Homo sapiens: one gene and its partners. The protein of the gene in region 1 interacts with the protein of each later gene in a pairwise test. Each region holds a gene or a part of one and is shown in the gene's direction. Other genes may lie near its edges.

Evidence for each region.
Region 2: the proteins of ESS2 (region 1) and LYST interact in a two-hybrid assay, tested with the Homo sapiens proteins (one study listed by BioGRID).
Region 3: the proteins of ESS2 (region 1) and DGCR6 interact in binary tests that used the Homo sapiens proteins (3 or more experiments, as listed by UniProt).

What each region holds. Positions count from the first base shown.
Region 1 is NC_000022.11:19,130,985-19,134,732, reverse strand, and holds part of ESS2 (splicing factor ESS-2 homolog), read left to right. Parts: intron 1-257; coding exon 258-537; 3' UTR 538-2,256; coding exon of another isoform or gene 2,257-3,333; 3' UTR 3,334-3,748. Other genes in the region: TSSK2 (testis-specific serine/threonine-protein kinase 2), read right to left, coding at 2,257-3,333. UniProt on the Homo sapiens protein: May be involved in pre-mRNA splicing.
Region 2 is NC_000001.11:235,664,264-235,668,011, reverse strand, and holds part of LYST (lysosomal-trafficking regulator), read left to right. Parts: intron 1-3,390; coding exon 3,391-3,547; intron 3,548-3,748. UniProt on the Homo sapiens protein: Adapter protein that regulates and/or fission of intracellular vesicles such as lysosomes. Might regulate trafficking of effectors involved in exocytosis.
Region 3 is NC_000022.11:18,904,551-18,908,298, forward strand, and holds the start of DGCR6 (protein DGCR6), read left to right. Parts: upstream 1-1,769; 5' UTR 1,770-1,824; coding exon 1,825-1,934; intron 1,935-2,014; coding exon 2,015-2,175; intron 2,176-3,748. UniProt on the Homo sapiens protein: May play a role in neural crest cell migration into the third and fourth pharyngeal pouches.

The sequences.
Region 1 (3,748 bases):
ACTCTCAGAGGCCTGGGGGTGCACCCCAGCCCCCACAGCCAAGGGCGGTGCTGCTGTTTGACCTCAGGTTTGACCTGAGCGCTGCTGTTTGACCTCAGGGATCCCCCGCATTTGCTGCCATGCTGGCAGTACCATCCTCCTCAGCTCAGAGTGACTGTGTCTCTGCCCAGGCTCTTCCTGGGAGCCAAGGGAGGCCCTGCTGCCGGCAGCTCTCAGCCCACCTAACCCTGCCTCTCTCACCCATTCCTCCACCCCAGCCTCACCCCCAAAGGCCTGAGCCCAGCCATGTCGCCAGCCCTACAGCGCCTTGTGAGCAGGACGGCCAGCAAGTACACAGACCGGGCCCTGCGGGCCAGCTACACACCATCCCCAGCACGCTCCACCCACCTCAAGACCCCGGCCAGTGGGCTGCAGACCCCCACAAGCACACCGGCGCCTGGCTCTGCCACACGCACCCCTCTCACACAGGACCCGGCCTCCATCACGGACAACCTGCTGCAGCTCCCTGCCCGGCGCAAAGCTTCGGACTTCTTTTAGAGCCAGGCCTGGGCTGGGCTCATAGACGCTTCACAGAGCCTGCAGGGCAGCTGTACACCCAGCAGAGGACTCCAGCCTTCTCGGGGCCCAGGCCTGGGCCAGAAGCTGTTGACCATACCAGGAGTCACTGGAGAAAGGGGCTGTGCTGGGGCCAGACTGGCACAAGGCACTCGTGCCCACACCACACCCCAGGGCCTTGCCAAGCTGTTTGCTGTTTAATTGGCCCCTTGAACTGTCATTAAAGAACACCTAGGTACAGTCTGGGGGGTTGCCTCTCCATCTTGCTCCCCACACGAGCCCTAGCCTTGCCCTGGGGCCTGCATCACGTCTCAGGACTGCGGGGCTTGAAGCGAGGGGCCCCCCAGGTGAGGAAGCTGCAGGTGGGGCGGCTGTGGGAGCACCGGGTGACTGGCGTTGCTTTCTGCGGCACTCGGAACCTGTGTTCTGAGTTGAGCTCACATCCTGCAGTGCTTTCTGCTTCTCTGGGGGGATATGAAGGAGAAACGGAGCCCTTGGAAGTTGTACCCTTAGGTTCCCCTGCGGTTCTGGGCCCAGGTCTGCAGCCTCCACTCTGGGCTTGCCGGCTGTGAGGTGCGCTGGTTATAGGACTGTGTGGGGGCTGCATATCAGGTGATCTCAGCTATCACCTTCTCCCAGCACCTGGCTTCCAGCTCATGGGGTGGGACTATCCCACTCACCCCTCTGCTATAGGCACTGCCCATCTTATGCTGCTGGCCCTGGCCTCACCTGGTCACTTCCACCAACAGGAGCTCCCAGATAACAGTGGGTTGCTGGACAGATCAGGCTGGGACTCTTAAGGGGTGGGGGACGTGGGGCCTTCAGTGCTTTATCCCCTAGGAAAGGGTGCACGTTATCCCAAGGGAGCCCCCAGGAAGTGGGGAGGGAGGGGGGAGGAGCATGTCTAGGTGCTGACCACCTGGAGCACTTGGCCAGCAAGTGGGCCGCATGCTTTGGGAGCAATGGGTGACCCAGCAGGAAGCACAAAAGACCGGCCAGTGTGCCATCATCAAGGGCTGCTGAGCAGCTTGAAGAGCCACTGGGTGGGGAGGGCACACGGGGAGGTCTCAGCTGGGGCTGCCCCTGGAGGACAGGGCAGGGAACTTGAGGGCTGAGGACAGAAATCTCACATGACTCCAGGAAATAGAGGAAGAGGAGGATGCTGAGCGAGGGATTGTGAGGGAGTGGGGGTAGGTCAGAGGGGGCTGAACTGCAGGAAGCCAGGGGGAGTCGTGGACCACTGGAGCTGGCCAGCCCCAGGGCATTGGGGACAAGGCCAGGTCAGAGGGAGACAGTGTGGGCCTGGTGGGTGGACCCTGGCAGAGGCCCTCTTGTCCCCCACAAGGCCAGGCCACACTGTGATTCTGCCTGTACCTGAGCATCTGTCCTGTGCTCCTAGGCCGGAGACCACTGTGTGTCAGGTGGGGCGGTTGGCTGAGTCCCAGAGAAAAACACTCCTCACTGGGCACTCTTGATGCTTGCACACACCCTGTGGTTTATTTGGTGGTCAGTAAGGAACGTCTTTGCTGCTAAGTGGAAGAAAGCTAATGGAACGTAATCAAAATAGTGGTTTAATTGACGAATTTTACTTGCACCTGTGCCTTCTTCAGATCCTACCTGCCTACTTAGTTTACGTGAAGGCCGACTGCACCATGCCCCCCAACCCCGACCCCCACCACACACAACGGGGCCATTGTCATGCTAGGTGCTTGCTTTCCCCACCTCAGCTCCGGAGATGTGATGGTCTTTGGCCCTGGAGGTCTCGGCCAGCCTGTCCTCCATCCTGTTCTCGTTCTCGGGCACCACCAGCAGCCGGTGCTGGGTTTTGGCTCCAAGCTTGTGGTCGGGCCGGTGGTCGGGCCTCAAGCCTGTCTTGGTGTCCAGTTTGCACTCAGCGCGGTACTTGCCCTCCCCCTCCCTCTTGAAGGAGGCAGAAGACGTGGCTTTGGGCTTGGGGGGCTGCAGCCACGAGTGGCTGAGGATCTCATCGATGTGGAGCCGCTGGCTGACGTCGGGCTGCAGCATGCGGTAGATGAGGTCCTTGCACTCGCAGGTCAGGTTCTTGGAGCGCGGGAAGTCCACACGGTGCTCCTTCTGGATACGCAGCATCTTCCTGATGTCGGAGTCGTCATAGGGCATGGAGCCGCAGACCATGATGTACAGGATCACGCCCAGGCTCCAGATGTCATACACCTTGGGCTGGTAGGGGATGCTCTGCAGCACCTCGGGGGCTGCATATGCTGCCGACCCGCAGAAGGTCTTGCTGAGGATGATGCGCCCATTGCTGTCCCGCAGGCAGCGCTTGGAGAAGCCAAAGTCAGACAGCTTGATGTTGAAGTCCTTGTCGAGGAGAAGGTTCTCGCACTTGAGGTCCCGGTGGACGATGTCCAGGTCGTGGCAGTACTTGACGGCGGAGGAGAGCTGTCGGAACATCTTGCGTGCCACGTCCTCATGCAGGGCTCCCTGGCACTTGATGAACTCGAGGAGGTCGCCCTGGACGCCAAGCTCCATGATGATGTAGATCCGTCCGTCAGAGGTCTCAAAGATCTCGTAAGTCTTGATGATGGAGCCGTGGTTGACAGTTGCCAGGATGTCCATCTCCCGAGGAAGGAATCTCTCCACAAAGTCAGTAGGTGTTTTCTTGCGGTCGATGATCTTGACAGCCACATTGAACTTGAGGCGCTCAGAGTAGGCAGATTTGACTTTTGCGTAGGAACCCTTGCCAAGATTGATGCCTACGATGTAACCCTTCTTCCTTAGGACTGTGGCATCGTCCATGGTGCCAGGAGCGACTGGCGCCGCTGCCGTCTACATCCCCCCGTCATGTGGGCCAGCAGGCATTGTCCTCATTTACACTACCGGAGGCGTCTGGCTGGGCTGCCCTGGGCTGGGCTTCGACTCAGGGGTGGAACACTCAGCATTGTCTCCGGGTGACTTCAGCCAATGAACTCATAAAGCCAAGGAGTGGGGGCGGGGACTGGGCTGAGGGAGAACAGGGTCTCTGGAACCGTGGAAGCCAGGCTGGTCTGGCAGGAGCACCCACTCCCCGCCCGCTGGAAGGAAGCCTGTCCCCAGGACAGGACTCTGGTGGCCCTGCTGCTGCTGCATTGGTTTCCCTGTCACAAGTCAAGCTGGAGGGGAGGCGGCCCACGTCCAGCCTGTTTGCATCACCTGGCTGTGGGGACTGACCCTG
Region 2 (3,748 bases), on another chromosome or scaffold:
TGTATTTGGTATTATAAATAATCTAGAGGTGATTTAAAGAATACAGGAGGAGGCCAGGCACGGTGGCTATGCCTGTAATCCCTGCACTTTGGGAGGCCGAGGTGGGTAGATCACGAGATCAGGAGATCAAAACCATCCTGGCTAACACAGTGAAACCCCATCTCTACTAAAAATTCAAAAATTTAGCCAGACATGGTGGCACTCGCCTGTAGTCCCAGCTACCCAGGAGGCTGAGGCAGGAGAATCGCTTGAAGGAAGCGGAGGTTGCAGTGAGCTGAGATTGTACCGCTGCACTCCAGTCTGGGCAACAGAGCGAGACTCCATCTCAAAAGAAAAAAAAAAAAGAATACAGGAGGATGTGCAGAGGTTATATGCAAATACTACACCATTTTATATCAAGGACTTGAGCATCCATGGATTTTGATATCCTCAGGGGTCCTGGAACCAATCCCTCTCAGATACCTAGGGACAACTATATTATGTGCCTGTGCTGTATGTGTAACATCTTCTCAAAAGTTACATTGTCAAGCTCATTCCTCCTGATCATAATTTCTCAGTTCTTATGATGGGATATGGTTTTTATAGTGATAAGATGTGAAATGTATTAAACTGTGAAAATGTAATCAGTGATTTCTGGGGGGGTTGTATGTGTGTTTACCATTCTATCACTGGATCAAAATATATGCCTTTGAACTAAGGTGAGACATCCATAGCCTGGTCCTCTGTTGCCAATGGCAAGATAGAGTTAGTAAAATATTCTAAGATTCACAGTGGGGTGGTTCTTTAATTTATTTTGATTTTCATGACTGTGTATACGAAGGATAGAGATGCTTTTTAGGAATGCCTAGGTTTCTGACTTTTAGTTGATGTGTTAAATTATACATTCGAGCAATCTGGTATTGGGTAACTGTCAAATTTTGATACTTACAGAAGTAGGCAGATGAGTAGTTATTTGGTTTTGTGGTAGCCCAAGTTACTGAGTGAGCTGCTAGGATAATTCTTTGGCTACTAAGTTCCAGGCCATACTTGAGAGTCCAGGCCCACATTTAGATTTTTTATTTTGAAGGATTAAGCCATGCAGTAGTGGTAGCTATGGGTTACAGCGAGAAACCCCTACCTCAATATCTTTTATGGCTATGTTTCCAGTGACTTCAATGAGCCTTCTAGCCTTACTAGTACTTATCTAATTATTTTATCTTTTAAAAAAATATTTTAGCCAACATTTAATTCAAAAGAAAGGTTGAAATGTAGCCTACTCATGGAAAATATTGTCTATAATTCTATTTCTTTAGCATACTGAGTCTCCTGCATCTTGATGCTATATTTAGATATAATCAATGTTCTACAATGGGAAAACTTAGTAGAACATTGGGCATGTGTGTGTGTGTGTGTGTGTGTGTGTGTATGTGTGTGTGTGTGTGCATGTGTGTCTCAATGTATATTTAAATAAAATTTGCCATTCCAGCCATTTTTTAAGTATTCAGTTCAGTGGCATTAATTATATTAACAGTGTTGTGCAGCCATCACCACTATTTCCCCATTCCTCCTCCCTCAGCTTCCAGCCCCTGGTAACCTCTATTTTACTTTCTATCTCTCTGAATTTGCCCATTGTAGATATTTTATGTAAGTGGAATCATACAGTACCTGTCTGTTTGTGTCTGGCTTATTTCACTTAGCATGATGTTTTCAGGGTTCATCCATGTTTTCGCATGCTTCATTCCTTTTTACGGCTAAAGAAAATTGTGTGTGTGTGTGTGTGTGTGTGTGTGTGTGTGTGTGTGTGTGTATGTACATACTGCATTTTGTTTATGCATCTGTTGATAGACATTTAGGTTGTTTCCTCTTCTTGGCTATTGTGAATAATGCTGCAACACACTGGGCATTTTGATCTGTGGTATTTGGCGGTCTTTGGCATATTTTTAAATAAAGAAGCATTGTTTATATGTTTCTTTGCTATAAAATATGAAATATTTTCATTGTCTTAATAAAAGACAGAAGCAAAGCCTCTACTTATATGTAATGAAAAGATAAAATTAAATGTAGTGAGACTATGTCATCAAACTTTATCGTGCCTCCTAACCGCTTTATCAGTATGAGAGTATTTCCCCAGAGAAGGCTGGACATATCATCATCAGCCCCCAAACCATCCTGTTTATAAAGCATGGCAGGCAATTATGCTTCCCCCAACCCCAGAAAACTAAAAGAAAAACTTTTGGTTACTCTGTAATCTTTGAAAAGAAAAAATTAATAAGGTATTGCTTTATAAGATTTAATCTTAGATGTTCTGAAGAATACTTTTTCTTCTTTTTTTAAGAATTAAGTTTTAACTCAGGTAATTTTTACTACACCTTTTTTTTTCTTCAAAAGTCACATAAGTCACTTTTTTTTTTTTTTTTTTTGAGATAGAGTCTCTGCTCTGTCGCCCAGGCTGGAGTGCAGTGGCACTATCTCGGCTCACTGCAACCTCCACCTCCTGGGTTCAAGTGATTCTTCTGCCTCAGCCTCCCTAGTAGCTGGAACTACAGGCGCCCGCCACCACCCCTGGCTAATTTTTTTGTATTTTTAGTAGAGATGGGGTTTCACCATGTTAACTAGGCTGGTCTCGAACTCCTGACTTCAGGTGATCCACCCGCCTCGGCCTCCAAAAGTGCTGGGATTACAGGCATGAGGCACCACGCCTGGCCAAGTCACTTCTTATAGATGGTTTCACAGAATATTTCCTTCACTTTTTGGAGACTGTTTAGCTTTCCAAGTATTTTCAATCATAACTCATATTTGGTGGTTCATATGCTGAAATATTACAATTACACAAAGATGATTATTTTACCTTGTTACTGTACACATAGATTGCTTCTTCTTATTTTTATTTTTTCGCTGGTTATTGTCTCTTGATTAATACATAAAGATCTATGCAACTTGGCCTGGTGCAGTGGCTCACGCCTGTAATCCCAGCACTTTGGGAGGCCGAGGTGGGCTGATCACTTGAGGTCAGGAGTTCAAGACTAGCCTAGCCAACATGGCAAAAACCCATTTCTACTAAAAATATAAAAATTAGCCGGATGTGGTGGCGTGCACCTGTTGTCCCAGCAACTTAGAAGGCTGAGGCAGAAGAATCTCTTGAATTCAGGAGGCAGTTACAGTGAGCCAAGATCACACCACTGCACTCCAGCCTGGGCGACAGAGTTAGACTCTGTCTCAAAAGAAAATGAAAAAGAAAAATCTGTGCAACTTGTGTAGTAATTTCATTTATACAGTCTTCAGTCATGGGTTGTCTACAAACTTCATCAATAAACAAATGAGCTTGCCCTTCAGGGTTGCCCTTCTGGGGCCAAATGTGGGCTCTGAGACAGCCACATTCTGGTAACCCGCCGGATGATTTGGGTGTTTTAGCTGGCGGAGGCAGTGACCTCAGACTCTGGACGGTGAACGGGGATCTCGTTGGACATGTCCACTGCAGGGAGATCATCTGTTCCGTGGCTTTCTCCAACCAGCCTGAGGGAGTATCTATCAATGTAATCGCTGGGGGATTAGAAAATGGAATTGTAAGGTAAGAGGAATTTGGATTCTCTTTTTTTGATTTCATTCATAAGGACACAGGAGTTTCAGAAATTAATTTTTAATATCTAGGCATATTAATATTCAGTATTTAGAGATTTAAACTCACCTTGGGGTGTAGGTTCTTTAGTTATTCCTGTTTTATTTCTAAATAATAAAGATAGCTTTAGCACAGTTTTGAAGTTTTATGTTA
Region 3 (3,748 bases), 230 kb from region 1:
CCTCTCGCCCATCCACCTGACCTGACTCTGGCAGGGCCTTTGCAGGAGCCATTCCTCCACCCGAACCCCTCCTATTAAAACGTGTTCCTAGCCGGTTCAGCCCCAGCCTGTAGGGACCAGCCCCACATGGTCGGTGGGTCTCTCCCCGTGTGCCGCAACGAGAGAGTGTAGAAATAAAGACACAAGACAAAGAGATAAAAGACAGCTGGGCCCGGGGGACCACTACCACCAAAGCGCGGAGACCGGTAGTGGCCCCGAATGTCTGGCTGCGCTGTTATTTATTGGATACAAAGCAAAAGGGGCAGGGTAAAGAGTGTGAGTCATCTCCAATGATAGGCAAGGTCACGTGGGTCACGTGTCCACTGGACAGGGGGCCCTTCCCTGCCTGGCAGCCGAGGCAGAGAGGGAGAGGAGACAGAGAGAAAGATAGCTTATGCCATTATTTCTGCATATCAGAGACTTTTAGTACTTTCACTAATTGACTACTGCTAGCTAGAAGGCAGAGCCAGGTGTACAGGATGACTAGGCATAATAAAGGCAGACTAGGAGCGGGACCACTGAAGCACAGCATCACAGGGAGATGGTTAGGCCTCCGGATAACTGCAGGCAAGCCTGACTCATGTCAGGCCCTCCACAAGAGGTGGAGGAGCGGAGTCTTCTCTAAACTCCCCCGGGGAAAAGGAGCCTCCCTTTCCCGGTCTGCTAAGTAGCAGGTGTTGTTCCTTGACACTTTTCACTACCGCTAGACCACGGCCCACCTGGCAACGGGCATCTTCCCAGACGCTGGCGTCACCGCTAGACCAAGGAGCCCTTCTGGTGGCCCTGTCTGGGCATAACAGAAGGCTCGCACTCTTGTCTTCTGGTCACCCCTCACTGTGTCCCCTTAGCTCCTATCTCTGTATGGCCTGGTTTTTCCTAGGTTATGATTATAGAGTGAGGATTATTATAATACTGGAATAAAGAGTAATTGCTACCAACTAATGATTATTGATATTCATATATAATCATATCTAAGATCTATATCTGGTATAACTATTCTTGTTTTATATTTTATTATACTGGAACAGCTCGTGTCCTCGGTCTCTTGCCTCAGCGCCTGGGTGGCTTGCCGCCCACACCAGCCACCAGAAGCTCCCCAGCCCCGGCCCAGCAGCTGGTCTGGGGAGCGGGGAGAGGGCAGTCTGGGCTCGCGGTTCCGGCTGGGGGCTGGGCACCCCGGGGCGACCACGGCAGGCCCAGATGGGGACTCCGGTTCCAACTCTCCTGGCCCAGAGGCTCTAGGGTGGTCTTGTCTGTCTCACTCCGGGGGCAGAGAGGACGCAGACAGACCCCAACACCACTGCTCGGCCGCGATGGTGCCTTAGACCCAGGTCCTGTGGGCTCTGGCCCGAGACCCCTCCCTCTGGGAAGGCCGGTGACCGGGACAGTCCACCTCGCAGGCGCGCCGGCGCGGAGCCCGGACCTCAGCCCGCAATGACTCAGCAAGGGCCGGTGGGATTCTACATGGTCCTGCGATATCCAGGCGACGGAGTCTCGCCTCTAAAGTGGCCCGGGGAGCAGGAAGGTATGAGCCTCAGCTGAGCGAAACCCTCCTTGCAGCCACCACGGAGGGACGGGGCGCGTCTCCTTCTGAATGACGCAAGGGGCGGGGCGCGTGGTGGGGCGGGGAAGGCGCGAGGCGCGCCGCGATCGGGGACTGTCCTAAGACGGGCGGGGCGCGCTGCGCTAGGGACTGTCATAAAAGGGGCGGGACGCGCCGCGGTCGGGATGACGTGAGCTGGGGGCGCTCGTCGCTGCAGCCGGCGGCTAGCGGGCGTCCGCGCCATGGAGCGCTACGCGGGCGCCTTGGAGGAGGTGGCGGACGGTGCCCGGCAGCAGGAGCGACACTACCAGCTGCTGTCGGCGTTACAGAGCCTGGTGAAGGAGTTGCCCAGGTACGCGGGCGGGGCGGGCGGCGGCCTGCCGAGGCCGCATCGTGTCCCGCCGGGGCTCACCGCGCTCCTCTACCCCGCAGCTCATTCCAGCAGCGCTTGTCCTACACCACGCTGAGCGACCTGGCCCTGGCGCTTCTCGACGGCACCGTGTTCGAAATCGTGCAGGGGCTACTGGAGATCCAGCACCTCACCGAAAAGAGCCTGTACAACCAGCGCCTGCGCCTACAGAACGAGCATCGAGGTGCGCGGGGGCAGCGGGAGGAGGTGCCGCCTCCTCGGGGTCGGCGCCTCCCGGCAGCTCTTGGTATCTGTGCAGCTCGGCTCCTTCCTTGGGAGTGTTCGGAAGAGGTCCCTAAGATTAACAAAATCAAGGGCGCAGAGACTGAGACAGCGCCTTTTTGGTGACCAATGTGTCCAACGAGTTTTGTTTTCAGTTGCGCAGCACCCACCTTCTTAGCAGAAACTCCCTGTTCGGGCTTCCCTGTGCCCCACCCCCTTCCAGGCCTGATGGCCCTAGGCCTCCGTGCTTGGTTGGCCGGCAGGCTGACTCTGGTGGTAGATCTGACTGCGTTGCCCTCCGGTAATTGGAGTTCTGTTGACAGGTGAGCAGCGCCCTTGGGTAGTTGGAGGTCTGTTGACAGCTGTGCGCGCCCTTCAGGGTCAGTTCCCTCTCAGGCCTGCAGGGCCTCATTCTAGTTGCACATCAAATTCCTAAGCACTGTCTCCTGTGGCGCCCTCCCAAACCAGAAGAGCTTCCCACTTGAGCCGCATGCTTCCTGGGCTTCGGAGCCCTTTCCTGCAAATTATATAGGGCAGGTCCCCCTGCACCATCAGATTTCCACCTTTGCTGTTTTATTTTTCCCAAACTTCTTATTTTAAAAGTTCAAACATTTGGAAAAACTGAAAAGACAGTGTAGTGCATACGCTTGTGCTCTCCACCGAAAGTTCAGTAGTTAACATTTTGCTCTAGTTCTTGACATCCCAAAATACATACATGTGACAGCATAGAATTCACCAAGAGTCTTCAGCATTCCTGGAGACCAGGATTTTCAACCCAGCCATGCTGACATTTGTGGCTGGGTAAGTCTTTATGGTGAGATGCTGTCTTGCGCATTGCAGGATGGCAGGGGTACCCTCCCTAGTCGTGAAAACCAAGAATGCCTCCAGACAACCTGGGTGGTGGGGTCAACCTTGGCCTTGGATTGGGAGCAAGTGCTCTAGAACAAGAGCGGTCTCCTACACAGCTGCAGAGGGTAGCCCCCTGAGAAATTAACTGTTCCAGGTGTCTCCTGACTTTCAGTGCATGGCCACATCATGGTACCTAACTTGTGGCAAATTGTTGCTTTATAAGTAAGGATCCAGTCCAAGTTCATGTACTACAATTGGTTACTTTGGTCTCTTTGCTTCTGGAACAGTCCCCAACATTTATTGTGGCATTGACTTTTTATAGAGTCTAATTCTATAATTAGAATGCCCTGCTCTGGATCTATCAGAGGAAATGCTTCCTCGTGCATTTAACCTGCTTCTCCACTCTCTGGGTTTACTGTACACTGGACTCCTGGTAGGAGCCTGATTAGAGGCAGGTTTAATGTGGCAAAAATTCCTCCTAGCGGGGCAAGGCCCCCTTCCCCAGAAGGCAGGCAGTGTCCATCTGCTCCAGGATTGGTGTGTTTCTATCAAGAATGGATGTTGGATTTTGGCAGTTTCCTTTTTGGCAGCTCTTGAGATGATCACGTGGTGAATCATTTTCTATTACTACAGTGAATTACAGTCACTTGAATTCCATCCTACTGGGTCGTGCTGTAGTATCCTTT